Linked DNA regions of Homo sapiens. The main gene of each other region encodes a partner of the protein of the gene in region 2 in a complex. Each region holds a gene or a part of one and is shown on either strand. Other genes may lie near its edges. The genes, in order: LTK and ALKAL1. A codon is read from its position in the direction of its gene.

What was found.
Region 1: the proteins of ALKAL1 (region 2) and LTK are in contact, whole or in part, in a crystal structure (PDB 7NX0), measured with the Homo sapiens proteins. Residues at the interface, in NP_997296.1 of Homo sapiens: His93, Arg96, Leu97, Asn100, Thr101, Arg102, Glu103, Arg112, Arg115, Leu116, Arg119, Leu120, Ser123; in NP_002335.2 of Homo sapiens: Tyr124 (codon at 8,982), His140 (codon at 8,934), Phe143 (codon at 8,925), Ala250 (codon at 8,215), Ser251 (codon at 8,212), Pro252 (codon at 8,209), Glu253 (codon at 8,206), Leu359, Phe360, Leu361, Gln362, Leu364, Ala365, Val366, Glu368, Glu372, Glu374, Arg376.

The regions. Positions count from the first base shown.
Region 1 is NC_000015.10:41,503,274-41,518,881, forward strand, and holds LTK (leukocyte tyrosine kinase receptor isoform 1 precursor), read right to left. Parts: upstream 10,555-15,608; 5' UTR 10,437-10,554; coding exon 10,394-10,436; intron 9,848-10,393; coding exon 9,704-9,847; intron 9,606-9,703; coding exon 9,434-9,605; intron 8,993-9,433; coding exon 8,842-8,992; intron 8,691-8,841; coding exon 8,544-8,690; intron 8,306-8,543; coding exon 8,149-8,305; intron 8,136-8,148; exon of another isoform or gene 8,074-8,135; coding exon 7,891-8,073; intron 5,857-7,890; coding exon 5,758-5,856; intron 4,964-5,757; coding exon of another isoform or gene 4,949-4,963; coding exon 4,796-4,948; intron 4,385-4,795; coding exon 4,289-4,384; coding exon of another isoform or gene 4,241-4,288; intron 4,191-4,240; exon of another isoform or gene 4,172-4,190; intron 4,018-4,171; coding exon 3,822-4,017; intron 2,733-3,821; coding exon 2,642-2,732; intron 2,505-2,641; coding exon 2,440-2,504; intron 2,258-2,439; coding exon 2,128-2,257; intron 2,033-2,127; coding exon 1,935-2,032; intron 1,792-1,934; coding exon 1,699-1,791; intron 1,602-1,698; coding exon 1,500-1,601; and 8 more. Other genes in the region: RPAP1 (RNA polymerase II-associated protein 1), read right to left, coding at 14,269-14,418, 14,525-14,584, 14,733-14,909. UniProt on the Homo sapiens protein: Receptor with a tyrosine-protein kinase activity. Following activation by ALKAL1 or ALKAL2 ligands at the cell surface, transduces an extracellular signal into an intracellular response.
Region 2 is NC_000008.11:52,557,557-52,573,705, forward strand, and holds the start of ALKAL1 (ALK and LTK ligand 1 precursor), read right to left. Parts: upstream 7,875-16,149; 5' UTR 7,701-7,874; coding exon 7,511-7,700; intron 1-7,510. UniProt on the Homo sapiens protein: Cytokine that acts as a physiological ligand for receptor tyrosine kinase LTK, leading to its activation. Monomeric ALKAL1 binds to LTK, leading to LTK homodimerization and activation.

The DNA.
Region 1 (15,608 bases), on a different chromosome or scaffold from region 2:
CACCGGGTCCTGCAGGACCAGGTGCCAGCCACTAAGGGGGGGCACCGCCGATGCCAGGGGTTTTGCCCACCCGGGCCCCAGCGTTCCCAGAGCCAAATGACACTAACTTATAGAAGGGGAGGGGGCAAAGGGCTTCTTCCTCAGGCCAGCTCTTCTGAGGAGGCTCTGCCCTCTCCAGAGGTGCCAGACCGCGGATTTTATTTAGCAAGCCCAGACCTTCCGGTCTAACGTCTCACACCACGACGGACTCCCCTTCCTAATAAAACTCAAAGACAAGATGCAGCTTCCTGTGCCTCAGGCCTCAGCCCCTCCCTCCTCCGGCCCCCTCTTCCTCAGTTCCGGTCCCTGGCATCCACAGATCGCTGGAGGATGAGAAGAGCTTTTTATTAGAAGCATCTGCAGGGTGGGGGGTCTGCCCAGATGAAGGATGCTCATAATGGGAGAGCAATCCAGTGCTCCCCATGGACACCTGGGGTGTGTGTAAGGCGGCCTCTGGCCCCAAGATCAAAAGCTGGAAGTGGCTGGGCCCTTCCCTGGGAGGCCTGGGCTGGTTTCCAGCATGGCAAGTGCAGCGCTGCCAGGCCAGCCCCGAGACAGGCCCAGACACACAGCACAGACTGCAGGGAACAGAGGCCGCTGGCATAACAGGCCACCCAGGAGCCTGAGGAGTATAGGGAGGGACCCTCAGTGCCTCAGTCCTTACCCTCAGGGCCCCTTGGGGCTCAGGAGCGATAAGTGGGATTCCAAAGGTTCTGAGGTTGGAGGCCCCTGGATTTGAGGGGCTTGAGGCCAGAGGACAGCCAGGGGCCAAGAGGGCTACCTCCCCAGCTTTTCAACTTCTCTGGACTCAGTTCCTGGGGCTGTGGGGGTCTTAGGCACTCCAAAGATCTGTTCCCCAGCCCAGAAGTCCCTTCCTCCTCTGGGGTGGGCCCCAGCTCCATTGGCAGGAGTGAATTCAGCACATCCGGGTCCTGTAATGGAAGAGTCAGGGAGCAGGGGGGCATAGAGTTTTCTGGCCCTCCCTCCTGACCCACAAGACCAGGATGTTAGATTAGGTCGGGGGCACACCTGAGTGCAGTACTGCAGACGCTCCAAGATGCTGGCAAAGCTAGGGCGGAGCTCAGGCTCGTGCTGCCAACACTGGGTCATGATGCGGTACCTGGGGAGAGGCAGGAGTTCATGCCCACCCATGGTTGTGAAGGACCTCCCTTCCCGGGCAGCACTCAACTCACACAGGCCCTGGGCAGCCCCTAGGAGGGTCCATCCGGCCTCCTCCAACGACGAAGTCCAGCACCTCCTGGTTGGTGCGCCCAGGATAGGGCATGTAGCCCAGTGAGAAGATCTCCCAGAGCAGCACCCCAAAAGACCTGCATCACAAGTGGGGGAACCAAGTGAGGCCCGTCAGGTGTAGCCTCCCCTCACATGAGGTGGCTGGAAAGGACAGGATTAGCCTCAGGGGAGGGGAACAGTGGGGAAGGGGAGGGGAAGGGTGTTATCACCAGGAATCTGTCTTGGATGTGAAGATGCCCTCCAGGAAGGCCTCTGGGGGCATCCACTTGACTGGGAGCAAGGCCCGGTCCCCCCTGCGGTAATAACTGGCCCTACAGGAGGGAGGAGGTGAATGATGAGTTGTTCACCACCAAGGTGCGGGGAAAACCCCCTTGGAGCAAGAGCCTTCCCACCTCCCAAGTCCCGCACCGGTAGATATCTCGTGCCATCCCAAAGTCCCCAATCTTGGCCACTCGGCTGGGTCCAGCGCAGCTCAGCAGGCAGTTCCGGGCGGCAATATCCCTACAGAGTAGGCAAAAAAAATCACTGCCAGAATCTAGAAGTTCTTGCTCTTCCTGATCTATTTCCTTAAAAGCTGTGTGGAAGGGCTGTTCCTTGGGGAGGGAGTTGGGATGGGGGTCCCCTGAGCCAGGACTGCTCCTAACCTGTGGATGAAGTGATTTTCCTCCAGGTAGTGGCAGCCCTGGGCTATGTCCTGGGCCAGTTGCAGCAGGTCCCGCATGACCAGAGGTGATGGCTGGCCCTGGGTCAGGCAGAGGGGGCATCAGTCCATGTAGGTCTCAGACACATGGACAGGGTCTTTAGAGGGGCCTGGGGGGGCTAAGACAAGGGTCTCACCAGGTGTGGCCGACTGTGCCTCAGGAAACTCTTCATGTCCCCTCCAGACATCAGTTCCAGCAGAATGAGGCGAGGGGTGGCCCTGAGGCTGAGCCCCACACACCGCACAATGTTCTGATGGCGAAACTTGCTGAGTGGGGTGGGGGACATATCCCGTTACCAGGAGGGAGACGGAAACCATGTTTTAGGCTCCACAAAGCTGGAGAGGCCCTCTGTGTCCCCTGACTTGCTACCTCAGCCTCAGGGTGAAGAGAAACTGTTCCCGGGCATTCCCCTCCCGCCTTCCAGCCCTGCCCCTGGTCCCAGGTGCACCTGATGATGAGGGCCTCCATGAGGAAATCCAGCTCATCCTGAGGCGAGCAGAGTTCTGGCAGGGTCTGGGGAGGAAAAGGGCACAGTTTCTGAGCTGCCCTGCACGCTTCAGGAGAGGGGGTTAACCCTAGCTCTAGTCATTGTCCTTCCCTTCAGGGTGTTCCGCTCTCCTACCCCCAGCCAGAAGTCCCACTCCTCTCACCTTGATAGCTACCTGCAGGGGACTGGAGTCCCCAGGAAGGCCAATTACCAGTCCCTCATACACCTCCCCAAAGGCACCATGGCCCAGGGCTCTGCAGGAAGACACGTTGGAAGGGAGTGGGCAGGCGGCCTGGAGAAGAGTCCTAGAGAGTCTAGTACCCCCTTTACCTCCCCTGCCCCTGCCATATGCCCAGCTGACCCTATATAGACTCTCTCCATACCATGGCATGTCCCCAGGTAGAAGCCCTGCAAGGGTGGTGCTCACTGGCATAGAGCCAGGGCAAAAAAGAGGGCAGATGCGGGCCAGAGTCAAGGTGGGAGTGCATGATGAGGACTTCCCTGGTCCCTGCAGACGCCCTGGGCGGGAGGCAATCCCTGGGCTCCAAGAGTCATGATTTTTTTTCTTTTTTAAACGAAGTCTCACTCTGTCATGCAGGCTGGAGTGCAATAGCGCGATCTCGGCTCACTGCAACCTCTGCCTCTCGGGTTCAAGTGATTCTCCTGCCTCAGTCTCCCGAGTAGCTGGGACTACAGGCAAGCGCCACAACGCCCAGCTATTTTTTGTGTTTTTAGTAGACACAGGGTTTCACCATGTTGGCCAGGCTGGTCTCGAACCCCTGACCTCAGGTGATCCACCTGCCTTGGCCTCCCAAAGTGCTGAGATTACAGGCGCCAGATCATATTTTTTTTTTATTGAGACAGAGTCTCACTCTGTCGCCCTGGCTGGAGTGCAATGGCGCAATCTCGGCTCACCACAACCTCCGCCTCCCAGGTTCAAGTGATTCTTCTGCCTCAGCCTCCCACGTAGCTGGGATTACAGGCATGCGCCACCATGCCCAGCTAATTTTGTATTTTTAGTAGAGATGGGGTTTCTCCATGTTGGTCAGGCTGGTCTCGAACTCCCGACCTCAGGTGACCTGCCTGCCTCGACCTCCCAAAGTTCTGGGATTACAGGTGTGAGCCACCACGCCCAGCTGAGAGATCATATTCTAAGAACTGGGACGGAGAGGTGACATTGAGCAAGTTACTTCCCCTTCTGGAGCTTCTCAGGGCCTCCCTCTCCCTTACACAAGGGATGTGGGCCAGATTTTTTCTGGGACTTATAATTCACTACAGCAGGGAGAGAATCAGAGGTGGGGATTCAGAGTGCATAGGTTCTCAGAAGGAGGCAGAAGACTTACCTGAGCAGAGTAACATTGGCTGGGGAAACCTCGGTGACACCTGGTGGCAGAGGCCAGGACTGGGCCGGGCCAAGCCCCACCTGGCAATAATAGGGATTGGGGGCTGTCCTGATGGCAGAGGTTCGAAGCTTGCTCAGCTCAAGCTCAGGGCTCGGCAGCCTCATCTCCTGCAGGCCCTGCCACTTCTTCTGCTTCACTGGGGGTGGGAAGAATAACGGCACACCCTCCACCTGCCCATCAACTCTCCCTCCCCCACCTGCCCAGGACACCCCTCCAGATGCTCATTAAGGTAAACGTTTTCCCCAGGCCTCCCCAGCTCCTTCCTATCTTAGAATCCCAGAGGAGTCTACCACGGCTCTGCTGCGGTGAGTGGTCTTGAAGTCAGCCCCGGGACCCCGCAGAAACCCATCCCAGCTCACTGGAGAGGAGCAGCCTTGAATCAACTGTGCCTGCTAGACGCTTCGTACCCAGAATCAGGACCCCACACACCATAAGGAGGCTCAGTGTTGAGGTTGCCACCACAGCCACCATCAGAACCAGAGGGCCTGGGGGCTTGTGCAGGTCTAGGGAGAAAGAGAGACACCTCCAGTGGGAAGGTCTTCTCTGTTCCTTTACCCTCAAGTTTTACCCACGCTTCAAGACTCAGCTCAAGTGTTAATTTTTCCATGATGCCTTCCCCCATTATCCTGGGCAAAAGCAACCTCTCCCTCTTGAACACCCCTAAAGCACTTTATACCTCCCACAACAATCGTCACTTGAGATATACATTTACATAGCTATATCTAAACATCCTCCCACACTGGACGACAGGCCTCTGAAAGGCACTGTGCACCGATGAATCTCCAATCCCCTGCCCAGCACCCACCACAGGGCCTGGCACACAGCAAATCTCTATACCATCTTTCCCAGTGGCCTACTGCTCCTCCCAGTCTGTGACCCCAGGAGTCCAGACCTTGGGCAAAGGTAGGACATACCCATGCAGGTGACGTTATCCACAGCTAGCTCCATGCCTTCTGGGCACAGGCATTCAGCCAGCTGGAGCTCTGCCTGCCATTGGCAGTCTCTCAAAGGGCAGTGACTGCAGTTGAGGTGCCTTCGGATCTCTACCTCTCCGTGGTTCTCGGTGACTGTGAGTAAAAGAACTGATATGATATGGTGTGGTAGGGCTGGGATATAGTAAATACATGCCTTTGGCTGGGTACAGTGGCACACGCCTATAATCATTGCACTTTGGGAGGCCGTGGTGAGCGGATCACCGGAGGTCAGAAGTTCAAGACCAGCCTGGCCAACCCCGCCTCTACTAAAAATACAAAATTAGCCGGGTGTGGTGGCGCACGCCTGCAATCCCAGCTACTCCAGCACTGAGGCTGCAGAATCACTTGAACCCGGGAGGCGGAGGTTGCAGTGACCCAAGATCGCACCACTGCACTCCAGCCTGGGTGACAGAGCGAGACTCTGTCTCAAAAATAAAAATAAATAAATAAATAAATAAATAAATAAATAAATAAATACATGCCTTTTCCAGCCACATGGTTAATTCTAGCCCAGGACTTTAGAGCAAAGAGCAGCACCAAGCTTACAAGGGTGGTGAGAGAAGCTGGGGGACTTCTGTCAAGCCTGCACACTCCCAGGTATTTGAAGCGAATTCATAGCAAGGGGGTACTTGAAAAGCACGCAGCATGCCCTGCATTGCCATCCAGCACGACTGGCAGCCCACTTTCCTTTTTTTTAAGACAGAGTTTTGCTCTTGTCGCCCAGGCTGGAGTGCAATGGCATGATGACAGCCCACTTTTCAAATGACCCTATGCTATGCAAGAATCCTGTGCTATGCAAGGTTATTCACAGTGCAGGTGGCTCTTCAGTGCAGTGCAGGAGTGGGCTCAGGGACTGCGGAAGAAGTCCAGGCCAGGCTCAGAGGTGGGGTTGGGGCCAATACCTGCCAGAGGCTGCAGGAAGAGCTCGCTGCTGGGGTGTATGAAGGATACTCCATCTTCCCCATCAGCCCAGAGGTTGTCAGTCTCTGAAGCGTCGCCCCCTGGAAGTGGAGAGTGATGGAGAGTTTGACTACAAAAATGGGGGATGGGGGAGAAGCTGGAATCTCCCGGTGGAAATCCCAGTGTGGCCCTCTCTTCTCCAGCATCATGATGCAAATGCTGTCTGTTCACAAGTGGGAGTGAAGGAGGTGAGGAGGGGGTAATCAGCTGGAGCCTGAAGGCCTCGCTGAGGCTGGCTGGGATGCCTCCTGCCTGCCTGAGCCCCTCCTGTCCCATGTCCTCACAGTCCCTTTCTGTGAGAATGTAGATCATGTGTGTATGTATGAGCAGTACAGCCCAGACAGGCACAAAGGCATTTACACTAGTTATTTGATCAAAACACAGATGACTGGGACTCTCCCTTACAGTTTCTGATTCAGTATGTTAGAGAAGGGCTGAGAATTCGCATTTCTTTTTAAAAATTAATTTTTAATTAAAAATAAAAATTCAGGGCCAGGTGTGGTGGCTCACGCCTGTAATCCCAGCACTTTGGGAGGCCGACATGGGCGGATTACGAGGTCAGGAGTCCGAGACTAGCCTGACCAACATGGTGAAACCCCATCTCTACTAAAAATACAAAAATTAGCCGGGCATGGTGGCGCATGCCTATAATCCCAGCTACTCAGGAGGCTGAGGCAGGAGAATTGCTTGAACCCGGGAGGCGGAGGTTGCAGTGAGCTGAGATTTGTACTACTGCACTCCAGCCTGGGCAACAGAGCCAGACTCCATCTAAAAAAAAAATTCATATATTTATTGTATACAGCATGATGTTTTGAAATATGTACACACTGTGCAATGGCTAATGCAAACCAATATATACACCACCTCACATGCTTATTTTCTGTGGTAAGAACACCTATAATCTACGCTCTTACCAATTTTCTTTTCTTTTTTTTTGAGACAGAGTCTTGCTCTGTCACCCAGGCTGGAGTGCAGTGGCACGATCTTGGCTCACTGCAACCTCCGCCTCCCGGGTTCAAGCGATTTTCCTGTCTCAGCTTCCCGAGTAGCTGGGACTACAGGCATATGCCACCACGCCCGGCTAATTTTTGTATTTTTAGTACAGATGGGGGTTTCACCATATTGGCCAGGCTGGCCTCAAACTCCTGACCTCAAGATCCACCCGCCTCCGCCGCCCAAAGTGTTGAGATTACAGGCGTGAGCCACCGCGCCCCGCCTCTCTTAGCGATTTTCAAGAATACATCGTCATTAACTACAGTCACCATGTAGTACAGTAGATTCTGGAAGGTATTCCTCCTATTTAACTGCCATTTTGCATTGTTTTGACCAGCATCTCCCCAACCTTCCCCCAACTCCCAGGATAATTTCCATTGTTTTTTTTTTAATCTTTGAGACAGAATTTCCCTCTTGTCGCCCAGGCTGAAGTGCAATGGAGTGATCTCGGCTCACTGCAACCTCCGCCTCCCAGGTTCAAGCAATTCTCCTGCCTCAGCCTCCAGAGTAGCTGGGATTACAGGCTCCCGCCACCACGCCCGGCTAATTTTTGTATTTTTAGTACAGACAGGGTTTCACAGGTTGGCCAGACTGGTCTCGAACTGGTGACCTCAGGTGATCCACCTGCCTTGGCCTCCCAGAGTGCTAGAATTACAGGCGTGAGCCACCAGGCCCAGCTGATAATGTGCATTTCGAACAACTTAGGTTGTGGGGATATTACCTGTTCCTGGACCACACTTTGAGAACCACTGACTTAACCCAATCCTGCCTTTCTGCCCCTTTGCTCAGCTTGCTCACTCGGCCAGCTCTAAGTTCTGAAGACTGCTGCAGAACAAGGCAGGGACCTGCTGTGATGGGAAAGATCCTGGATTAAACGGAAATCTAGGGAGTCCTGTCTGCATGCTGATTTGCAGTGTATTTGACCTCCTTTTCTAAGAGCTCCTGCTTTTTGTTTGGAGCTGCTGAGCAGGGCTTAATGCCTCTCCCACACCTATCCTCCCGAGGGCTCCGGCCTGTACTTAGGTTCTAACATCACCTCACCCTCGGGCCTGCTCAGCTGCCCTCTCCAACGGTGCACCTACCCCTGTAGCCGCCGCCGCCTCCGCCCGCAGTGCAGGCCCCGCCGCCGCCCCCGAAGCCGCCGGCCGCGGCCCAGCCAAGGGTCGCCCAAGCCTCGGAGCAGCCCTGGCCGCCCTCCGCCCCCTCCTGCAGTGAGCGGCCGGCCTGCGGAGAGGGAGCCCGCGACGTCCAGCCGCCCCCACCACCTGCAGAGCGACAGCAGGAAGGTTGGCAGCCACACGGGGAGCACGCCCGCCTCTCCCCGCGGCCCGCGCCCTCACCTGCCGCCCCGCCTCTCCCGCCGCTCCCGGGCGCCTCCGAGCGGTTCTCCAGTTTCTCGGGGGAGGCCTGAGTCCGGCCTCGGTCCCGCGGCCTCAGGTAGGCCCGACCGCCGCCTCCGGCCGCCACCAGCAACGGTTCCAGCTCGCCAGCGCGCACCTGTGGGGCCAGCGGCGTGTTCCAGGAAGCGCCCTCCAGCTGTCCAGGGGCACTGCCACTGGGAGAGGGCTCCCGCCCAGGGGGCCTGGATAAGGGCAGGGGCCCCCAGCCCAGCCCAGGCCAGCCCAGCCCAGCGCAGGGATAGGGGGACCCCAAGGGACGGACGGAGAGCCGGTGCGTGAGCGCCCCTGGGGAGAGGATTGGGACCCCAACGCTGAGCGCCGAAGGGAGCACGTACCCGGAAAACGTAGGTGGCGCCCCCGCCACCCCCGCCACCTCCCGCCCAGCGCCGCGACCCCGGGACCCCTTCGCTCCCATCCATCGCCGCGTGCTCTTCAACGGCTCGAGACTCCCCGAGGCAGACGAGCTGGCTCTCCGGGCTACCCTGCGGGCAGCGGGGGAGGGAATCGGCGGGGCCCGGGAGCCTCCCCTCGCTGTGCTGGTGACCCGGCACCGAGGAAAGCACGCTCCCCCGGCCCCCAGGCAGCCCTCGCCCCCGGCGCCGGCGCCGCCCCATCCCCACTGGCTGCGCTCACTCCGGGACAGGCGTCCTCTCCCTGCTGCCCCACCAGGATGTACAGCGACTCCCCGAGACCGAGGGAGAAGATTGCTGAGACGAAGACGCCATGCGCCCGCGACAGGTGGTTCTTGGCGCCTTTGCCGCCCGCGGCTCCGTAGGCTGAGATCCTGCGGGGAACGGACGGTGAGTCCCCGGCCTTCGGTGCTCAGGCCGGCCGCTCCGGGCAGAAGTTGGCGACAGAGGAGGCTCCAGAATTATTTTTTATCTGAGGGACTTGGAGGCTGCAATCGACTCTGACGGGATGGGAAGGGTAGGTTTGCACACCGAAAAATCAGATATTACACTTATTTCAGGAGGGTTCGTGGAAATGTGGGGAGGCTCAAGCACCCCTTGGCGCCGCCCTGGTTGGGGGCCTTCCGCTCGGTGTAAGAGGTTCCGGGTAAGGGCTAACTCGGTGGCGACTACTGCCACCTTGAAGGGCACTCAAGGTGGACCTCCCCGCGGAATAGTCCAAGACGCAAGTCGGTGCGCACGTGGACTTCGTTACCCTGAGGGTGAAACCTCCAACTAGCAGGTCACTGTCCACCCTACCTCCGCCGTGCACTTACAGATACTGGCCAGGGCCCGGCACGCGCCACAGCTGCACGCCTCTCAGCTGCCCGGCGGCCCCCACGGTCACCACCACGCTGGTCCCCGCGTACGCCCCGTCACATTGTGTCTGTGTGGGCCCATGCCGGCCGCTGGCCCCGCAGGTAGAAAACAGCCAAGACCCCTCGGTGCCTGAGAGCAAGGAGCGAGGCAAGGGTCGTCGAGCCCCTGGCTGGGCCAGAGGGGTCTGGTATGGTGAGCGAAAGAGGAAGGAGGCGTCTAAAGCTCACCCGGAGAATTCAGCGGGGAGGCTGGCTCCAAGATACTAGGCGGGGCGCTGACTTTCGGGTCCCGGGGGCTGGGACTTGCCAGCGGCAGGGGCGAGGACCGCAGAAAAGTCTCCTGGGACCCCGGGCTAGAGCAGAGAATGGCGCCTGAAAGGTGTTGGGAGAAGGCGCAGGACGTTAAGGCGGGTGGAAATAGGATATGAAAGAAAGAGAGAACCCCGCAACAGCTGCCCTTGCGGTCGCGGCCACACCCGTCACCCGGCCCAGCCGCGCTCTCAGCCTGGAAGCCACTACCCGACTCCGGTCGCAGAAGCCCCGCGGGTGCGCGCTGATAGGTCTGCCAGTTTCTCTCCTCGAGCGCCTTTCCCAGTGAATAACTTAGGGGCCGCAATGAATTTGGTCCTGCAGCCTCCCCAATGCTTTCCTCAACTTAGATTGGTGGCCCCGCCCCAAGGCGGTGCTGAGACCCCAAAGAATGTTCCTCCTTCCCAAGCTGCGTGATCCAGACTCTGGGATTCGCACGCACTTGGCGCTTCTCGGCCCGCACTCCAGAAGCACGGACCGGAGAAATTTGGCTGTGAGAGTTCGAGGCCTCTGGAGGAACCACTGACACCTGGCCTGTTGACCGGCCACCCCCAAGCCTAGGAAAGTGCCTCAGGCTGGACGGTCCCCTGACCGCCAGATAGCACTTACCCGCGGCTCCGAACCACACCAGCAGCTGTCCCCAGCAGCCCATCCCTGTTGGGTCCACCCGGCAACAAAAGCCCTTGCGGTCGCGGCCACACCCCTGTCAACCTAAAGTTGACAGCTCATTTTGCCACGGCAGCCCTGGCCACCACTTACAGGGGTGTGCTGCCGCTGGCGAGACACTCCCCGGACCTAAAGCTGGTCTGGCCACGCCCACCTCAGACCCCAGGACGCCAGAGGAGGAAAGGGAGGGGCGTGTGGGCAGCGAGGTCCCTACGCTTCCGGGAGGAGCCTTAAGGAGTCCCCACCCAGGGGTTCTAGTTTCCAGCCGTCAGATGTGCCGCAGCCTGCTGGGAGCTCCGGTAGGTTTGAGGCCGGAGAGGAGGTGCCCCACGCTTAAAGTGGGAGCCACACCTCGGACACCAGGTGGGGGCTTCCAGGTTCCTGAGGACAGGAGCAGTGGAGTGTGCACTTCATTTGTGGCAGTGGTGGTGGTGGTGAGTGTGTGGCATGCGTCACCACACGTGGGAAGTACTCTAAACTGCTCCAAGTAAGGCCTCATTACCTGCCATTACTTGTGCCTTTTAGTGGTGCCTTTGTGACTGCAAGGCTGAACCTCATTGCTACTCCCAGAAACCTGGATCTCTGTGTTTGCCTCATATAATTCCGTTGCCTGTGTTACCCCTGTGCACAGCCTCTCACTGTGATGGGGTGAAAGACTGGACCAGACGTTAGAAGATCCGAGTGTTTTTAGTAGCACTGAAGGTCAATAGATGATAGGTAGGTAGACCGATCGATCGATTGATCTTGAGCACTAGTACTGGCACCTCTGGTCAATGGGTGATGTAGCACAGGCCACAACTGCCCTGAGAGTTTCCCCACCACCTGCAAAATCATATGAAGGGAAATTGCTCTGTAAGGTACCCTACAAATGTGGGAGCCACTCCCTTCAGGTAGTTTTGTGTCTTGAGTCTTCGATCATTTGCTTAAATGATCATTTGCCGGGTGCGGTGGTTCATGCCTGTAATCCTAGCACTTTGGGAGGCTGAGGCGGGCAGATCACCTGAGGTCAGGAGTTCGAGACTAGCTAGACCATCATGGCAAAATCCCGTCTCTACTAAAAATACAAAATCAGACACACGTGGTAGCGCACGCCTGTAATCCCAGCTACTCTGGAGGCTGAGGCAGGAGAATGGCTTGAACCTGGGAGGCAGAGGTTGCAGAGACGAGATCGCACCATTGCACTCCAGCCTGGGCAACAAGAGCAAAGCCCCATCTCAAAAAAAAAAAAAAAAAAAAAATCCTAACTTGAAAGTCTGAGACCTATGTTTAATACAAAATACTTCAAAAGAGAAGTTATAGTAGTTAGCTACTTGGTAAAGTCTGAGTATAATTCAAGGTGTAAACAGAACAGTGATTTTGTAAAAAGTCTGGTCTCAGCCAGGCGTGGTGGCTTACACCTGTAATCCCAGCACTTTGGGAGGCCAAGGGGACGGTGGGGGTGGGGTGGATCACAAGGTCAGGAGTTCAAGACCAGCCTGGCTAAGATGGTGAAACCCCGTCTCTACTAAAAATACAAAAATTAGCCGTGCGTGGTGGCAGGTGCCTGTAATCCCAGCTACTTGGGAGGCTGAGGCAGAGAATTGCTTGAACCTGGAAGGCAGAGGTTGCAGTGAGCCGAGATTGCACCACTACACTCCAGCCTGGGTGACAGAGTGAGACTCCATCTCAAAAAAAACAAAAAACAAAAAAACCCTGGTCTCTATGCCCTACTTAACACTAGATATCACACTATGAGATCACAGAATTTACCTTGCAAAGTCTCTTTAAGCCACTGCTCTTCAAATTGTGGTTGTGTGGTTTGTTCTGAACATCAGCATCAGTATTACCTGGGAACTTGTTAGAAATGCAGATTCTTGGGTTTCACCCCAGATGTACTGAATCAGCAGCTTCTGGTGGTAGGACCCAGTGATCTGTTTTAAAATATCCTCCAGATGATTTTTGTCACAAAGTTTGAGAATCATTGGTATTTGCTGATACAGTAGTTGCTTAATAAAACCTATTGGGGCCACATGCTGTGGCTCACACTTATAATCCCAGCACTTTAGGAGGCTGAGGTGGGCGGATTGCCTGAGCTTAGGAGTCTGAGACCACCCTGGGCAACATGGCAAAACACCGCTTCTAATAAAAATACAAAAAACTAGCCCGGTGTGGTGGTGCATGCCTGTAGCCCCTGCTACTCGGGAGGCTGAGGCATGAGAATCACTTGAGCCTCAGAAACGGAGGTTGCAGTGAGCCAAGATCATGCCACTACACTCTGGCTTGGGCTACAGAGTAAGACTCTGTCTCAAAAAAAAAAAAGAAAAAAAGGCTGGGCCCAGTGGCTCATGCCTGTAATACCAGCACTTTTGAAGGCTGAGGCGGGCGGATCATGAGGTCAGGAGTTCGAGTTCAAGACCAGCCTGGCCAACATGGCAAAACCCCATCTCTACTAAAAATACAAAAATTAGCCAGGCGTGGTGGCACGCGCCTGTAATCCCAGCTACTTGGGAGGCTGAGGCAGGAGAATGGCTTGAACTAGGGAGGGGGAGGTTGTGGTGAGCTGAGATTGCCCCACTGCACTCCAGCCTGGGCAACAGAGCAAGACTTCGTGTCAAAAAAAAAAAAAAAAAAACCCAAAAAAACCTATTGGATAATTCTGTGTTCAGCAGCTCCATTTATGAAGACTGGGTTCTCTCTACCTACTGACAGGGCTAGGCCTTGGCACACTGCTCTGACTCTGGTTACTTGCAAACACAATAAGTAATCCACACAGCAAAAGACAGTCTAAGAAAGCCTAAAGTTTAGAATTCAGACCAAAGAACAATGTAGAAACTACCAAAATAGGCCAAGTGTAGCGGCTCATGCCTGTAATCTTAGCACTTTGGGAGTCTGAGGTGGGTGGATTGCTTGAGCTCAGGAATTCAAGACCAACCTGGGCAACATGGTGAAACTCCGTCTCTACAAATACAAAAAATTAGCCAGGCGTGGTGGCACTTGCCTGTGGTCCCAGCCACTCAGGAGGCTGAGGTGGGAGAATGGCTTGAGCCCAGGAGGTCGAGGCTGCAGTGAGCTATGATCACGCCACTGCACTCCAGCCTGGGCAACAGAGCAAGACCCTGTCTCAGAAATAGATAGATAGATAGATAGATAGATAGATAGATAGATAGATAGACAGACCGACCGACCGACAGACAGACAGACATGGGGTCTCACTATGTTGGCTAGGCTGGAATTGAATTCCTGGAATCAAGTGATCATCCTGCCTCAGCCTCCCAAGTAGTTGGGACTACAGGTGTGTACCACTGTGCCTGGCAGGCCCCACATTCTTGTTGTCTCCAGATGTGGACAAAGTTTTTACCTCCCACTTATGATTCTTCCCCATCTCTCTCACAGCAGTCCTGCTCCTCACCTGGGATAACCCACCCCCAGATACTAACCCTGAACTAACATGGCTGAAATCAGTCCAGATCAAATTTCCAGGAGATAAAAAACATTTATTTTAATGCACAACTATAGCATTCATATGCCTCAGCCCAGGGCAGGGGTTGGGAGTTAGGTAAGAAGGGATGCATTTAGTTTGCCCTGTCCCCAAAGAGCGGGTAAATAGCTAAGCCACTCTTCACTCCCAGTACAGACCTTCAGAAGCCCCAGATATCAGGATGTAATGGTAGGGCTCACTGCTCTAAAACAGCTCAAACAACCTGCTCCCAGGAAGGCAAGCCTTCTGCTCCTTGGTCTCCTGCCTACCATTAGGACACAATGTTCTTCGTCTGGCCAGACATCTGTTGAAAGGCTGGATACAGGACAACGTACCCATCTTTCCATCTATATCAACTATCCTAGGTCTCTGATACCCCATTTTGGAGCACTGTTGAAGTCAGTCTCTGGAGGTAGTGCTGACGCAGAGGGGGCAACTGAGAATAGAGCTCAAAGCCCTCTGGGAGCGTGGAATTGGGAAGCTTATAGTGCAGGAGGTGCTGCCGGAGACCCTGCAGAAAGGAAAGAAAACTTATGAAGTGGGTAATGAGATCCTGTTGTGGTCTCTGTCCCCCAAGATCCTCTAATATCCCACCCTCCTAATGGCCCTGACCCTACCTCATCTGCCAGCAGCCATGTTTTCTGCAGCATACTCCTGCGGGCAGCTTTGACCTCATCCTAGAAGCAGAACAGGGAGAGGTGGCACTGAGCCGAGGGCTGGTACCCACCACTGGCCTTGCTTGACACTTACCTCTTCCCCAGCTGGCCCAGAGGCAGCTCAATTGCTAGCTCCCTTCCTTCCTCTGAAGATGGAGATGTAACTTACTGAGCTCTGTGGGTCCTGAGAGAAGATGAAGCTATTGACATGAGCCACAGCCACAGCATAGAGCACGGGGCACCAACGTGGGCGGAGCGCACCAGTAACCAGGGTCCGGAAGTAGAGCTGAAGGAGGGCCAGGTTGTCTTCAGGAGGCACTGTGTAACACTCCAGGGACACAGGCAACTGTGACAGGGGAAATGACGTGCTGAGGGGGAGGGTAGGAATGTATATACATACATAAGGTGTGTGGATAACGATCACATGAAACCAAATCATGAGGGCAGAGATCAGGTCCTAGACAAACATCTGTCCTTCTAGCACAAGGATCAGGGTTAAAGACTACAGAGCAGATGTTGGGGAAAACTGGGAACTGAGAAGCAGCCATTAAAAAGCATGAAATTGGCCATGTGTAGTGGGCCACGCCTGTAATCTCAGCACTTGGGAGGCTGAGGCAGGCGGATCACACGAAATTAGGAATTCAAGACCAGCCTGGCCAACATGGTGAAACCCCATCTCTACCGAAAATACAAAAATTAGCTGGACATGGTGGTGGGTGCTTGTAGTCCCAGCTACTTGGGAGGCTGAAGCAGGGGAGTCGCTTGAACCCAGGGGCGGAGGTTGCAGTGAGCCGAGCGCGCCACTGCACTCCAGCCTGGGCAACAGAGCAAGACTCCGTCTCAAAAAAAAAAAAAAATTAGCCAGGCATGGTGCTGTGTGCCTGTAATCCCAGCTACTCAGGAGGTTGAGGCAGGAGAATCGCTTGAACCTGGGAGCTAGAGGTTGCAGTGAACCAAGATCATCAGGCCACTGCACTCTAGCCTGAGCAACAGAGCGAGACTCTGTCTCAAAAACAAAAACAAAAACCCAAAATCTTAAAAACAA
Region 2 (16,149 bases):
ATAAAGATCAGACTTTTTTTAACGGTTGGCTCACATAATTTGCCTTATGTTTACAGAGAAAACAGAGCCTACCAAGCGTGAGTAGACACATACATAAGATGAATAGTAATTATGGATTCTGTAGAATTAACAGACGTATAAAATATTGGCTGTTGTGGTAGCTCATGCCTATAATCCTAGCACTCTGGAAGGCAAAAGACTGCAGATCACTTGAGGTCAGGAGTTTGAGACCAGCCTGGGCAATGTAGCGAAACCCATCTCTACTAAAAACACAAAAAAATTACTGGGTGTGGTGGCATGTGCCTGTAGTCCCAGCTACTTGGGAGGCTGAGGTGGGAGGTCGAGGCTGCAGTGAGCTGAGATTGAACCACTGCACTCCAGCCTGGGCAACCAGAGTGAGACTATGTCTGAAAAAAAAAAAAAAAAGAAGAAGAAGTATAAAATGTTCATACTGGGGCCTGATGCAGTGGCTCACTCCTGTAATCCCAGCACTTTGGGAGGCTGAGGCAGGTGGATCACTTGAGGTCAGGAGTTCAAGACCAGCCTGGCCAACATGGCAAAACCCTGTCTCTACTACATATATATATACACGTATATATACACACGTATATATATACACACACATATACTTTTTTTTTTTAATTAGCTGGGCATGGTGGCTTGTGTCTGTAATCCCAGCTACTTGGGAGGCTGAGGTGAGAGAACTCCTTGAATCTGGGAGGTAGAGGCTGCAGTGAGTTAAGATTGCTCCACTGCACTCCAGCCTGGGTGACAGAGTCAGACTCCATCTCAAAAAAAAAAAAAAAAAAAAAAAAAAGTTCAGAATGGGGCACACTCTTCAACAACAGCATTTAAATTTGAATGAGTAGTTTATGGTTTTACTGAATTTGTTTCCAGGTATTTTTCCACCAAATAACAGTGTGCCTATTTGACTAGCAATTAGTATGTGGTCGTGTCTCAGCAACTCTCTTGCCATGTCCCTGCCCTGTCCCTCAGCCCTCCTCTGTTCACCTTTCCTTCTCTCTTCATTGCTTTCCTGCAGCCCAGTCTTTTTTTCCTGGTGTCCCCCAGCGGCTAAAGTCGGGCTCGTTTATAGGCATTGGCTGAAACAATGTTTCCAAAGTGGGCTCCTTCATATCCTAGATATGCAACATGCAAATAAATGCCTAATTTAAAAAAAATTTGGATAGTACTGATTTGTATAAAGTTTCCTTTACTGCAGGACTTCGTAGTGCTTTGTCATAGTCCGTTTTGTGTGGCTATAAAGGAATACCTGAGGCTGGGTAATTTTTAAAGAAAAAAAAGCATACTTGGCTGATAATTCTGGTGACTGGAAAGCTCAAGATTGGGCATCGGCAGCTGGGGAGAACCTCAGGCTGCTTCCACTCATGATGGAAAGTGAAGGGGAGCCGCTGTGTGCAGAGAACCCGTGGCCTGACAGGAGCAAGGGGCAGGGGAGGGGCCAGGCTCTTTTTAACAACTAGCTCTCAAGAAAAGTAATAGAGCAAGAACTCACTCCCACCACCTCCCAGGAAGGGCATTAAACTGTTCCTGAGGGATCCACCCCCATGACCCAAACACCTCCCATTAGCCTCCACCTCCAACACTGAGGATCGAATTTCAACATGAGGTTCAGAGAGGACAAATATCCGAACCAGAGCATGCTTGTATAGTGATTCTAAAAAAGGGGGCTTAATCGTTATGTTCCCAAAGCTGGTAGACCAAGGAAGCCTTTTTTCACAGGTTATCTTTCAAAACACACTGGAACGTATAGCTGTAGAGCTGTGGGTACATGCAAGGATGGAGGGAGGGCAGACAGTGAGCTACTGAACCAGAGGAGTGTGGCTGGGTTTGGGGAGGGCAGATAGAAACCATCTCTATCTGGAAGAAACTTTCCAAGAGATTCCAATATGCCACCTTTCTCCTCCTCACTCTCCTTAGTTAAAAAAATTCTGATGGTCCCAAAAATTCAAGGTACATGAGAATTCTCAAAGAGTTTGTTAAAATGCAGATCTACAAGCTGCACTCATACAGATTTATTATATCCAGGGTGAAGTCCAAGAATTACATTTGAAACTTGCCTCTCAGCTGGTTCTGAAACAGATGATCCCAGGAGCCTCATTTTAACAACTACTGCTCTAGAAGGTATTAAGGACAGTAAATACTGTATTGTCTAAATATAACCAAATGCCAAAAAGTTAGCTTATGCCTCATAATGGTAGGAAGTAAATAAGACAATAGGTCTGCTTTAGCTTTGGGGAAAATAAAAATTTTAATTCTATATGTCCACAATTATGTATCTATAAATCAATAAATAAATATTTTAAAATTCAAATTATTTTAGTTTCAAAGTTAAAGAAACCTGCAAAGTTTCTTTTTTAAAATTCAATTTCTTCTGAAAAAAGTAATTCTTCCTAAAAGAAGAATTTACACAATGACTTTGGTAGGCTATGGGATATTAAAAACCGAGTAACCCCTAGTCTTCAACTTAAAGAGGCTCACATTCAAATAGAATAATATAATATCAAACTAATATGAGTTTCAGTGTGAGGTGTGCTGTAGGAAGAAAAAAACGCTATCTGTGTTCAACAGAGAAAGAAATCATCAATGAACGATATCATCAAATCAAAAAGCCTAACAATAACTCCAAGTAAAACACATTTAATAAAATTTTAATTTTATTAATATGTAAAAGACTACACATCTTTCACGTATGATATAAATATTGTAGCTATTATTTCCTGGCAGTTTATGTTGTTAGATATATAAATGGAGTTATAAGAAATATTTAAACTCCAGACACTCTACTTACTACCCACTACTGTGACGTTTTCTACAATGGCAAATAGTCGAAGGAAATATCACCTGGCCACGTTTTTCTATCCTCCTACACAGCAACAAAGATCTTAGAAATCTGCTCTCAAATGTCATTTCCAGCAATAAAACTGAAGGCCAAAGAAAAAAATTGCCATTAAAAAGGAATTGTTTTAATCCTAGGTTTTCCTAACCAATATGTGATTGGAAAGTAGTCTCCTGGGACTGGGTCATTTCAGGCAAAGAGAACCCCACAGTGGGTGATTCTGTTGACCTCTGCACAGAATTTCCTCACTTAGCAGCTCGATAAATAGGCTCCTGCAGAAAGGCCACAATTCCTACAAGAAATACTGTGAATGGGCAGAAACTCATTCCTCTAAGTTAGCTTTGGCATCTCAGAATGAGTATTTATGATCCTGCTAGCTAGCAGCCCCATGCCCAACAGACGTCTGGTCATATATATAACCTGCCAAATCTACTTGGTGAAAAATCATATATAACCTTTTCACTTTGACCTCTCCCCATACTAACAGTTTTCAGTAAAATAAATAGCTTCAAGTAACCCTGCAAATAACATAATAAAAATATTAAAATGGAAGATGATGGCTATGTTCATCTGTTTGACTGTAGTAATCATTTCTTGTGCCTACATATAACAAAATATCATGTTGCACACTTTAAATATATACAACAAAAAATGATTTTTAAAAAAAAGTACCCATCCATACCCCCCTCCCAGGTGATATGCAAAGCAGCAAAAATTTTTTATTATTTATGTGAAATAAATTGTTACTCACCAGGTATAACTGTCTAAGTGGGCAGATATAATAGCCACAGACTTGCAATAGAGAGAATTTGGGCTGTACAAATAAAATCCCACTATTACGCAAGCCCCTGCAGTATTTAAGTATGTCTAGTTTTTTTTAACTTTCATCAGATCTTTGGGGATATTTGCAAAGTGAATTTATGGTTTAAGACGCATCTGAACGCATAAATAACCGAACTGCAAAGACAGTACAAAGGAAGGGGGCCTAGATGGATGAATAGAATTCCAGCAGGCAGAGGTAAGAGAAGTGCATTTCAGGAGAGGGAGGAATAGCGTTAAGCACAGGCAGAATGGCCTCTGTAAGGAGGGGGTACCAAGCCTGGGACTGGCACAGAGGCACTTACAGTAGCTCCTGAGAGCTGCCGAAAGGTAAGAGGAGGTGGCACAAAAGGACTTGAATATCTGCCTTTCTTTCCAAGGAAGCTAGGACCTTCCTGGAAAATCAAGAGAAACCACAGCAGATTTATGACCAGGAAGAGACCAGCCCCATGCTACTTATTAAGCACGTTGATTTGCCATTGTTCAGCATAACCTCATCAAAACCCCTTCACATTCTCTCCTTAAGCTCCATGTCAGTGAGGTTTTATATTAAAACAGCAACAGCAAGCACAACAACACAAATCTGACTCCAGAAAGCCTGTAGAAATAAGGTAAACATTTACTGAAATCTCTTGAAAAGGCAGAGGTAGCAAAAGAAACATCATATACATCAATAGTTGCTAACAGTACCCTTACACTGCTGCCTCCCACATCTCAAGCCAATTTCCTTTCTGTCAAAAACTGAACCTCCTCTCTACTCCCACCACGGCCCTATTCTCAGCCTTCTGATTCTGTTTTCCTTTCAGTGGGTGAGTGCTCTGATGTTTCTTTCCTTTGGCAGGGTTTGAGGTATGGTCCCTTGTTTGTGCCATCCTGCTGGTGGCGCAGTGACCAAAGACAAAGGGAGGAGGAAAGAGGAATGAGAGAGCAGGAGCGAAGGTTACTGGGAATTCTTATCCCAGTAGGACACACTGTCAGGGGCACTAATAGAGTTGGAGATGATCGAGAAGGTCACCGTAAAACTCTCAAGAGGGTCTGAACTAGAGTGGTGGGAAGGACACTAAAAAGGAAGACCCAGATTCGAGAGACATCGCAGGCAGGAATTATGAACTGAATTGTGCTCCTCAAGCACAATGGTCAACAATGTTGCCCATCCCAACGACCTCAGCTGTGTGTTAAATTGCTAAATGAGAGGACGGATACAGGCACGAACAAATGGGCTGTGAGAAGGAAGGAGGGCCAAGGACGGTGAATCAGGAGTGTTCCTGGGAACCTAACACAGTCCCCCACTCTCCGCAATCCTCGGGGCATGCTGTCTGGTCCCTCCTGCCTCAGGGTTTCCTGGTTACTACTCCCTCTACCTGGAAATGATCCCCCCACCTCCAGCTCACATCTGCATTTAGGGAAGTTGCCTGGCCTACAGAAAAAGGCAGACAGAGCAAGTGCAGGGGCAGCAAAGATTTCTGAACCTAGAACAGGTACGTTAGGCCTGGGTGATGGTGCTTATTACGTCACTACAGAAATATGGGGCCATCATTCCAGGCACATCTGGCAGAGATGAGAGTCCTTGGCCTCCCGGACCTGCGAGATATTTTCCTCCTGAATGAACGATAACCCCTGCCACCTGCTGAGTGCACCCCGTGAGAACATCCAGATAGGCCCTTGTCCTCTATATTCTCATGTCCCTGTTTGTTCCTGATCCATGTGCAAGTACTCCATTCACAGACTCAGATACGGATGTCATGAGCCACCCTTTTCTCCCCTTGTGAATGTAGTATAGCAATCAAAAAATTAGACAACTACAGTCACAGAAAGCAATGGCTTTAAGGGTGCCCACAGGGCACTTTCTGTCTGACTATATTGTTGTTTAAAACTTCAGATGGTTGCCGCTTTTAACTATGGCCGGGCATAGTGGCTCATGCCTGTAATTCCAGCACTTTGGGAGGCCAAGGCAGGCAGATCACTTGAGGTCAGGAGTTCGAGACCAGCCTAGCGCAACATGGTGAAATCCCATCTCTACTAAAACTACAAAAAAATAAAAATTAAAATTAGCCGGGCGTGGTGGTGCGCCTGTAATCCTAGCTACGTGGGAGGCTGAGGCAGGAAAATGGCTTGAACCCGGGAGGCGGAGGTTGCAATGAGCCGAGATCACGCCACTGCACTCCAGCCTGGGAGACAGGAGCGAAACTCCGTCTCTAAATAAATAAATAAAATATTGTTTTATCCCTTGTAACTCACTTCAGTAAGTCTTCACTGTCTGAATCAAAGAGAAAAGATCTGTTGAATGAAACAGAAGGTCTGAATGAATGTGTGCCCTCCATGTTTCTGTACTTTGAGAGCCTTTCTCCCAGTCCTTTCACATTCCAAAGTGACATTTTATTCTCTGAGATAAATATTTTAGGCTAACAATAATTTTAAGTCAAAGTGCATGATCTGTGTGCACCATTGCTGCATGGCCGTGCTGCGGACACTGACCCTGTGCCCTCCCCTCCTGAGGGCTCCCCAGTGGCCGGCTGGACTGAGAGGCTCTGCCCGGGTTGTCCACACACCAGCTGGGCAGCCCACCTCAGCCTCCCACCTTCTCCATCCCCTCCCCAGGGCAGGACACCCTGCTCACTTAGTGCAGGTGTGCACCAGCGCCTCCTTCCACACCCAGGTGTGTGGGAGAGTGCAGACACTGCTGTCTGCTCCTCTGGGTGGCCTCCGCCCTCTGCATGGTGACAGACAGGAACTCGAAGAAAGTTTGTGGAGTGAATAAGTATATATTTATATCACAACTATTGTGAAAGAAAAATCATACTAAGAAGCCCTTGTTTGCTTTCTTAGCCATAAAGCCTGAGGAGAAGGGATCAGGAGCTGTGGTCCCACGGCCAGCCGCTAGCTGCGAGGCATCCCCAGGCCACCCTAGGCCCTCTCCTCTTCCCAAGCCCGGTGGAGGCCACCAAATGTCCCCGCAGAGGGGCCCTTCTGTCCCAGCCTCGCCGGCAGCTTCACCTTGCTCTGCTCTTGCTGGGTGTGAACAGAAACGTGTGAGGAGCTTCTCGCTTCTGTCCCCACCTTCCTTTCCTGCGTGTCCTGCCCTCCTCCCTCCAGCGCTGCCCCAAGTGCCCGGCCGCCCCCTCGGACCTCCTTTTCCAGGGGCTTTTCCGTGTTCCCCGTATTCACACGACTTCTCTGCCTGTGGATGTCTCATGACCCTCTAGAGCAGCGACTTTTTCCTCCCTCATTCCTTCCACTCCCCTCGGGCATCTAAGTAGCAGGAACCTGACTGTCCAAAGTTGATTTGGGAGCAGCCGGCTGCCCTTCTAAAATGATCTAGGAAAGGTGCCAGTAACATAAGCCGCCGCCTGCTGAAACTGGCGCTTCCTCAGCCACTCGCTGCGGCCAGCGTGAAAGGGGAGGGGAAAGGGGCATTCCTGGCACGGTCAGGTGTCTACGGACAGCAATCTTAGTTAATTCTCAAAACCCCGGAAGATCCAGAAATGGGGTGCTGACAGGGACCTAACCTGTCCACCACCCCTCGGTCGGTGGGACTGAAACCCATGTCTTTGAGCTGCTTTACCAGTTTATTTCCAAAAAGTCCTCCTACACCTGGGAAGGGACATAGAAAGCTGATCCCATTGCCAGCCGGATTTCTTTACTTAACTCTCAACCGTGGTAAATCTAATTCGCTTACGACCTCTTTCCGAGAGCTGGGAATCTGCAGAGATGCTCTGTTTTCTGCTGTACTAATCTCAGGCTTCCCAAAGCGAGTGCCTCGCCCAGCTCCTAGGGGAATCCACGGAGCCCCAGGCGCAGGGCAAAGGATGGGGCGGGATGGGGACATCGTACCTGCGCTCCGGGAGCCGCTGGGAGTCCGGCCGGCCCCGGCCGCGGGGAGGAAAAGCAACGGCTTGGGCTCCTTATCCGTGACGCGCGCTCCCCTGCGCCCCCGGGGCCTCCCGTGGGCTCCGTGCGGGGACAAAGCCAGCGCCAGCAGGAAGAGTGCGGGCAAAGGGGCGCCGGGCTTAAGGGGCCGCATGTTCGCAAGCCGGGAGGAGAGAGCGGGAGACTCCGGGAGGATCCCGACGCAGGTCCGGAGGGTGCGCGGCCCAAGAGAAGGCCAGCGGGACCACAGCGCGGCTACGCGGCCGGCCGCAGTCTTCACCGCGCGCCTGCCCTTGTCTACGTCCCGGGGGTCGGCTGGAGCTGCACTGGGACTCGGTCCTCAGTGTGCCGAAGCCTAAGCGCTGCGGGGCGCGGGGCGGGAACGGGAGGCGGTGCCTGGGGCCACGGGGTCGTCCCCCAGGATGAGGGCGTGTCCCAGCGCGCGGGACCCTCGGAAGTCCGCGCTGGGCCGGGCGGGCACCAGCCTCGGACTCAGCGGGTCTCAGGGCTCCCTGCGCAACGCCTGCCTCGGATCCGGACCCCGGGCTCGCTCTCTGGTCGCCGTCCCCGGGAGGACCCAGTAGGGTAACTGCCGCGTCGCCCCGGCGGTTCTCCCTGGGCTCTGTCTCCCGCCGCCTCCACCCCCCGAGCCTCGGGGTCCGTCACGGCTTCCCCTGGCTGGCGGGGTCAGTAGAACCCGCGGCGCCTAGGTCCGGACGGAAAAAAGCAGGGCCGGGGTGCGGCCTGGATGAGCGGAGATCTCCGCGCCTTGGGCTCAAAGGTGCGGGGTGCGCTCTGCTGCCGAGCCCCTGCTCGCTCAGGAACACTGGCCACGCCGTCACGCCAGCCGCCCCTGCCCCAGGTCTGGAGGCCCGACCTGCTCTCCTAGGCGCAGCACCGCGTTCTCTTCCGCGTGGGGGAGCGGCGGGCGGAAGAGGTCTGGGGCTGGGCACCGGGGACACGCGCCCAGCTCCCCTGGCCTCCCTGGGGGGAGTGGCCGGTTTCAGTGCTTCCCCAGGTGAAATCGCCAAGGTTGACCAGTGCGCCCAAAAAAGCAGCCGGCTGGATTTTTCTTCAAATTAGGGAACTCTTATAAAGAGTTTTAGTGTTAACAACTTAAAAAATGAAATTAAGGCCAGTCGTTCTGATTAAAGTGCGCCTCTCTGATCAAACCGCGCTCTGTAAACTGTTGTTGTTTTAGTTGTTTCAGCCGCCTGCTTTATTGCTTTATGTTAAGTATATTGAAAAATGTTGAAATTGCTCGCTAATCAATTGACTACTAATTATCTCCTCATATGCAAAGTGCAAACAGGTGAAAGGAAAAAGGCAGGAATAACTAAGGGAACTGAGGCTCCATTACTCCTTAGGCGGTGCCCAACGTTACATTACTCTACAAAAAGAAATCTTGTGGGTCACAGATCCTGAATAATGACCTCAACTCCTTCAAATAGTTTATCTAGGCTTGGCATGTCCAACATGCCTAAGAAATTGGGAAGCAAAGCAAGCTTTGCAGGAGCCCTGTGAAATCGTGCCTTTGGATGAAGCTCTTTTGAGGAAGTTGTTACACAGGTGAAGACTGCTTCTTCCAATCGTTTCACTGTTAAGCACGCATAGGAATCTGGTATTTCCTAAGCAAACACAGCAGTGTAAGAGAATGGCTTCCACCAAGGGAGACCCACAAGAGTCTTCCTAGAAAAACAGGTTAAGGGTCTGAAGGCCCTACTTAGGTGGAATAAACGCTTTCTCACAGCTCTACTGAAGTGAAATAAGAAAACATTAGAAGTTCACAGACATTGACAGGCAGTTCAAAAATTAATTTTAATTGGAAAATAAAAAAATAGGGACTAGTCCGAAAAACGATGGGGAAATGCAGTATGAAATAATGCTGGAGAATAAGTGATACTGAAACCATGACAAATGGACTTTTTAATCAACCATCTATCCGGAGCAAAAGACAGCAAAACCTGGAAGCTGAATTATTTCCCTCTTCCTCTACGTTGAAAGCTAGAGGAAATAAACAAAGCAATGAAGTTTTCAAGCCTGACAGTTTGGGGTCTACTTTCAGCTGTCATTAGCCATGGGGCCCTGAGCAAAACACTTAGTCTTCTCTCTAGCAAGGTGAAGAGGTTGAACTTCAGTGGTTCTCACACTGTGTACCATGTGAAGGAGAGGCTGTAAAAAAAATGCAGGTTCCCAAACCCCTGGGGACGCAGTCCCCCAGGAGGATCCTGTAAATCTGCGTTTTAAGGGACTCTGGGTAGTTCTGAAGCAAGTGGTCCTTTGAAACCCACCTTTATTCATTCAACAAAAATGATGTGAACGCACACTGTGGACCAGGCAGTGGAAACACAGCGGAGCCACCACAGTGGGTAAAATAAACAAAATCCTCATCTTTGTGGAGCATCTAACTTCAGGGATCTAGTTCCTCAACACAGTGCTTTTATCATAAATAAACAGGTTACGTATAGCTAAGTCACTCTTTGCTTTTGTTCTTTGTTCATTGCATATCTTTGACTACTTTTCTAACTGCCCCAACTAAATGCTGCTTGCCCTGCCTCTTGCTAATTAGTTTAGAGGCAACTTGAAGTGTTCATGTGGGCATTCCCTCAGTAACACTTGCTAATTTATTTAGTATATAAGGAAGGGTTTTCTGTGTAGAAATGGGTACTTAGTAACTAATGTTTAAAGTAATCCAAAGTTTTTAAAACTGTAACTGTTACAAGCTGTTTTAAGCCTTGAAACTCAAGGCACTTATTTTCTTTACAACTTAGCTAATAAATTAAACAAGTGAAGTTTCCTTATTTAACACCAACAAACCCTATTAAACATTTCAAAATACAATCACATATTTAATATAGTTGATTTTCTTAAACATTTTTAAAACCAGAATTTTAAAAGTCACAATTGAAAAATCCATTGCTACATCTCCCCCAAAATATTGGTAATATTGGTAATATAAACTTGTATTAAGGTTCTCTAGAGGGACAGAACTAACAGGAGATATATACATATATATACACACATATAAATATAGAGATATATGTAAATATATATATAATACTTAATAAACTCCTACATATATATAGGAGTTTATTAAGTATTAACTTACACAATCACAAGATCCCACAACAGGCTGTCTGCAAGTTTGAGCAACAAGGTGACCCAGTCCAAGTCTCAAAACTGAAGAACTTTGGAGTCCGATGTTCAAGGGCAGGAAACATCCAGCATGGGAGAAAGATGTAGGCTGGGAGGCTAGGCCAGTCTCACCTCTTCACTTCAATCCAATCAAGTTGATACTCAGTATTAACCATCACAAGAATAAGATTATGACACAAACCTAGAGAGTTGATATACTCCTGAGGTAGGACAGTAAAGGTATATTGCTGGCCTTGCCAGCTGAAGGCAAATTGCTTCTGGTGGGCCTTATGGACAGGAATGGAGAAAACGGCATTTGCCAAGTCAATGTCTGCATACCAGGTACCAGGAGATGTGTTAATTTGCTCAAGCAATGAAACCACATCTGGTACTGTAGCTGCAGTTGGAGTCACCACTTGGTTAAGCTCACAATAATCCACTGTCATTCTCCAACATCCATCTGTCTTCCGCACAGGCCAAATGGGAGAGTTTAATGGGAATGTGGTGGGAATCGGAATCACCTCCCCTGCATCTTTCAATTCCTTGATGGTGGCACTAATCTCCTCAGTTCCTCCAGGTATGCAATATTGTTTTTGATTTACTATTTTTCTAGGTAGAGGCAGCTCTAATGGCTTCCATTTGGCCTTTCCCACCATGATAGCCCTCACCCTACCAGTTAGGGAGCCAATGTGGGTGTTCTGCCAGGTGCTAAGTATGTCTATGCCAATGATGCACTCTGGCACTGGAGAAATGACCACAGGATGAGTCTGGGGACCCACTGTAAGTCAGACCTGAGCTAGAGCTCCATTAATTACCTGACCTCCATAAGCCCCTACTTTAACTGGAGGACCACAATGACATTTTGGGTCCGCTGCAATCAACATCAGCTCAGAGTCAGGGTCCAGTAATCCCCAAAATGTCTGATCATTTCCCTTTCCCAGTGCACAGTTACCCTGGTAAAAGGCTGGAGGTCTCCTATTTCCCTTTCCCAATGCACAGTTACCCTGGTGAAAGGCTGGAGGTCTCCTTGGGGAAGGGCGGGGAAAAAATTCACTGCCTAAATTGTCAGTGATGTAGTGGGGTCCTTCCTCAAGGGGACCCAGCCTCCCCTTCATTCAAGGGGTTCTGGGTTTGTAAAACTGGCTCAAATCTGGAAATTGATTGAGAGGCCATGATTCTCTGTTTTTATAATTCAAATTAGTCTTTGGTCCATTCAACCTAGAATTTTTCTCCTTATAGAAATTAAGAAGGAATGCAGTAGGCTTCCTATCAATTTCACTTCTACGAACACTGTGATTAATTAGCCAATGCCAGAGCTCTACACAAGTCAGACTATTCCGATTGCCGCTTTGCCTCTGCTGTCCATTATGGTAGCTACGCCCACCTTGCCTTTGACAGTTGAGTGTTGCCACTTGGCCCCTGCCTCCCTGGGATCCAATTATGCCCGTTGTATTTAAATTTTGTAGTTGAATGACTGTGGTTCCCACCATTAGATCTGACATACAGAAAAGAGCAATTACAGGGCTCTTCAAACATGCAAGTGCTGCCCTCACGCATCTATTTCACAATGCATTGGTCAAGGGTATATCTTCTGGACCCTCCCAGCTGGAATGAGTAGGTCTAAAGTAATTAAGCCACTCCACCATCCCAATATCCCTAAGCCTTTGGAGTCCCTCCTCTACATTAAACCAAGGGAGATCAGGCATTTCCAGCTTGCTCTCAGTGAGCTATCTTTTAATCCATATTTCAGCTAACTGAGCAAATAAACTATTAGAACCTTTTTTTAACTCCCCAAGCTGCAACATTAAAAGCAGTGTCCCTACTTAGTGGGTCCAAATCAATAAATTAAGCCTGATCGAACTCTATGTTCCTTCCACCATTATCCCATACCCTTAATGTCCATGTCCATGCCTGTTCTCCAGATTTCTGTTTATATAGATTAGAGAACTTAAGCAGTTCTTTTCGAGTGTAGCACACCTCCTCATGGGTCACACTCTCAACCTCACCTCTAGGGACTCGTGAGGACTTTAGTTATAGGTCAGGAAACAAACAGGAGTGTTGGGGCTGGCTCCTAAGGAGAATCAACATTATTTTGCCTGGAAACTGCTTCGGGGAGGCCATCACTGTTGCCTCGGGCAGGACAAGGTTTATCTTCTCACACAAAGGTGGAAAGGCTGATGGCAGCATGGGTAAGGGAGGGGATTTTGCCACTACTGGGGATGGAGAAGCTGTTTCTTCTGGAAAAAAAGGTTCATCAGAGTTTACAAACTCTGGGTCAGGGTCCTCCCACACGTCTCATTCCAAGTTGCAGGGTCCCATTCTTTTGCAGTCAATGCCCTCACTTTAACAGTAAACACCTGGTGAGGCTGTGCACGCACCTTTCATTGCAGATCAGCCACTCGCATGATACGAGCTTGTGTCTGTCTTTCCACAATTTCAGCTCTTTCTCTACATGAGATAAGGCTCTCATTCAGGGCAATCTTAGTAGATTTCAGGCTCAGTATCTGCTTCTGAAGTCAGGAGACAGAATCCCTAAGTTCCTCATTTTCTTTCATCACTTTGTCCACTGAACTTTGGAGCAAGCAACCAGCTTCTTTATGTTTGTTGGGTCTCCACATATGGTCAAAGGTATTATGTATAGAGTCACTAAACTCCTTGCCTCTCATGAGCAGTGAATCAGGAATGTCAAATACATTTATTTTGCATAATTATCTAAACAGTTCATGCCAAGGACTATCAGTGTTCTCCATACTATTAGAAGTAGAGTCCTTAGCATTTTGAGATCTAATCATATTAAGCAACCAACTCCAGAAACCCCAAAACCAACGAAAGAACTCCATCCTTAATATTATGTTCCTCTAGAACCACTCCCGGTACCAAAATCTGTATTAGTCAGAGTTCTCTAGAGGGCCAGAACTAATAGGAGATAGATAGAGATGATAGATAGATAGACAGATAGATAGATAGATGATAGATAGATAGATGATAGATAGAGATATATACATATATTAGTTTATTAAGTATTAACTTACACAATCACAAGATCCACAATAGGCTGTCTGCAAGCTTGAGGAGCAAGGAGAGCCAGTTCGAGTCTCAAAACTGAAAAATTCTGGAGTCCAAAGTTTGAGGGCAGGAAGCATCCAGTATAGGAGAAAGATGTAGGCTGGGAGGCTAGGCCAGTCTCGCCTTTTTCCATTTTTCTGCCTGCTTTATATTCACTGGCAGCTGATGGACGAGCCACAGACAAAACTCCTCAGACACCGAGTTAAAGAAGGAAGTGGTTTATTCATCAGGGAGCTTCGGACAAAACTCCTGTCTCAAGAGCCAAGCTCTCTGAGTGAGCAATTCCTCTTCCCTTTAAGGGCTCACAACTCTAAGTGGGTCTGCATGAGAGGGTCATGATCGATTGAGCAAGCAGGGGGTATGTGACAGGGGCTGCATGCGCTGTGTGGTCAGAGTGAAACAGAACAAACCAGGAAGTTTCACAATGTCTTTTCCATACAATATCTGGAATCTATAGATAACATATCCAGTTAGGTCAGGGGTCGATCTTTAACCACCAGGCTTAGGTCAGGCAGGCCCAGGCCTGGTTTCGGGTCTGGTTCCTAGGCGCCAGGCTACCTGCCTTTTGTTTCGCTTTTCTTTTCTGAGTATAAAACAATATGAGAGGGTCTGTCTCTCTTCTCTCAGCCTTTTTACATTTTTCTGCCTGCTTTATATTCACTGGCAGCTGATTAGATGGTGCCCACTAGATTAAGAGTGGTTCTGCCTTCCCCAGCCCACTGACTCAAATGTTAATCGCTTTTGGCAACACCCTCACAGACATACCCAGGATCAATACTTTGTATCCTTCAATCCAATCAAGTTGACACTCAGTTTTTTTTTTTGTTTGTTTGTTTGTTTTTTTAGTACTTATTGATCATTCTTGGGTGTTTCTCGGAGAGGCAGATGTGGCAGGGTCATAGGATAATAGTGGAGAGAAGGTCAGCAGATAAACACGTGAACAAAGGTCTCTGGTTTTCCTAGGGAGACGTCCCTGCGGCCTTCTGCAGTGTTTGTGTCCCTGGGTACTTGAGATTAGGGAGTGGTGATGACTCTTAACGAGCATGCTGCCTTCAAGCATCTGTTTGACAAAGCACATCTTGCACCGCCCTTAATCCATTTAACCCTGAGTTGACACAGCACATGTTTCAGAGAGCACGGGGTTGGGGGTAAGGTTATAGATTAACAGCATCCCAAGGCAGAAGAATTTTTCTTAGTACAGAACAAAATGGAGTCTCCTATATCTACTTCTTTCTACACAGACACAGTAACAATCTGATCTCTCTTTTTTTTCCCCACATTTTCCCCCATTTCTTTTTGACAAAACCGCGATCGTCATCATGGCCTGTTCTCGATGGTCGCTGTCTCTTCGGAGCTGTTGGGTACACTTCCCAGACGGGGCGGCCGGGCAGAGGCGCTCCTCACTTCCCAGACGGGGCGGCCGGGCAGAGGCGCTCCTCACTTCCCAGACGGGGCGGCCGGGCAGAGGCGCTCCTCACTTCCCAGACGGGGCGGCCGGGCAGAGGCGCTCCTCACTTCCCAGACGGGGCGGCCGGGCAGAGGCGCTCCTCACTTCCCAGACGGGGCGGCCGGGCAGAGGCGCTCCTCATTTCCCAGATGGGGCGGTCGGGCAGAGGTGCTCCTCACATCCCAGAAGATGGGCGGCTGGGCAGAGGTGCTCCTCACTTCCTCCCAGACGGGGTGGCTGGGCAGAGGTGCTCCTCACTTCCCAGGCGGGGCGGCCGGGCAGAGACGCTCCTCACCTCCCAGACGGGGTGGCCGGGCAGAGACGCTCCTCACCTCCCAGACGGGGCGGCCCGGCAGAGGCGCTCACTTCCTAGACAGGACAGCCGGGCAGAGGCGCTCCTCACCTCCCAGATGAAGGGCGGCCTGGCAGAGGTGCTCCTCACCTCCCAGACGGGGCAGCTGGGCAGAAGCGCTGCCCACCTCCCAGATGGGGCGGCCGGGCAGAGGCATTCCTCACATCCCAGACGGAGCGGCCGAGCAGAGGCGCTCCTCACTTCCCAGACGGGGCGGCCGGGCAGAGGCGCTCCTCACTTCCCAGACGGGGCGGCCGGGCAGAGGCGCTCCTCACTTCCCAGACAAAGGGCGGCCGGGCAGAGGCGCTCCTCACTTCCCAGACGGGGCAGCCGGGCAGAGGCGTTCCCCACTTCCCAGACGGGGCGGCCGGGCAGAGGCGCTCCCCACTTCCCAGACGGGGCGGCCGGGCAGAGCCTCTCCCCACTTCCCAGACGGGGCGGCTGGGCAGAGGCTCTCCCCACTTCCCAGATGGGGCGGCCGGGCAGAGGCTCTCCCCACTTCCCAGATGGGGCGGCTGCCGGGCAGAGACGCTCCTGAATTCCCAGATGGGGCAGCTGCCGGGCAGAGGCGCTCCTCACTTCTCAGACGGGGTGGCCGGGCAG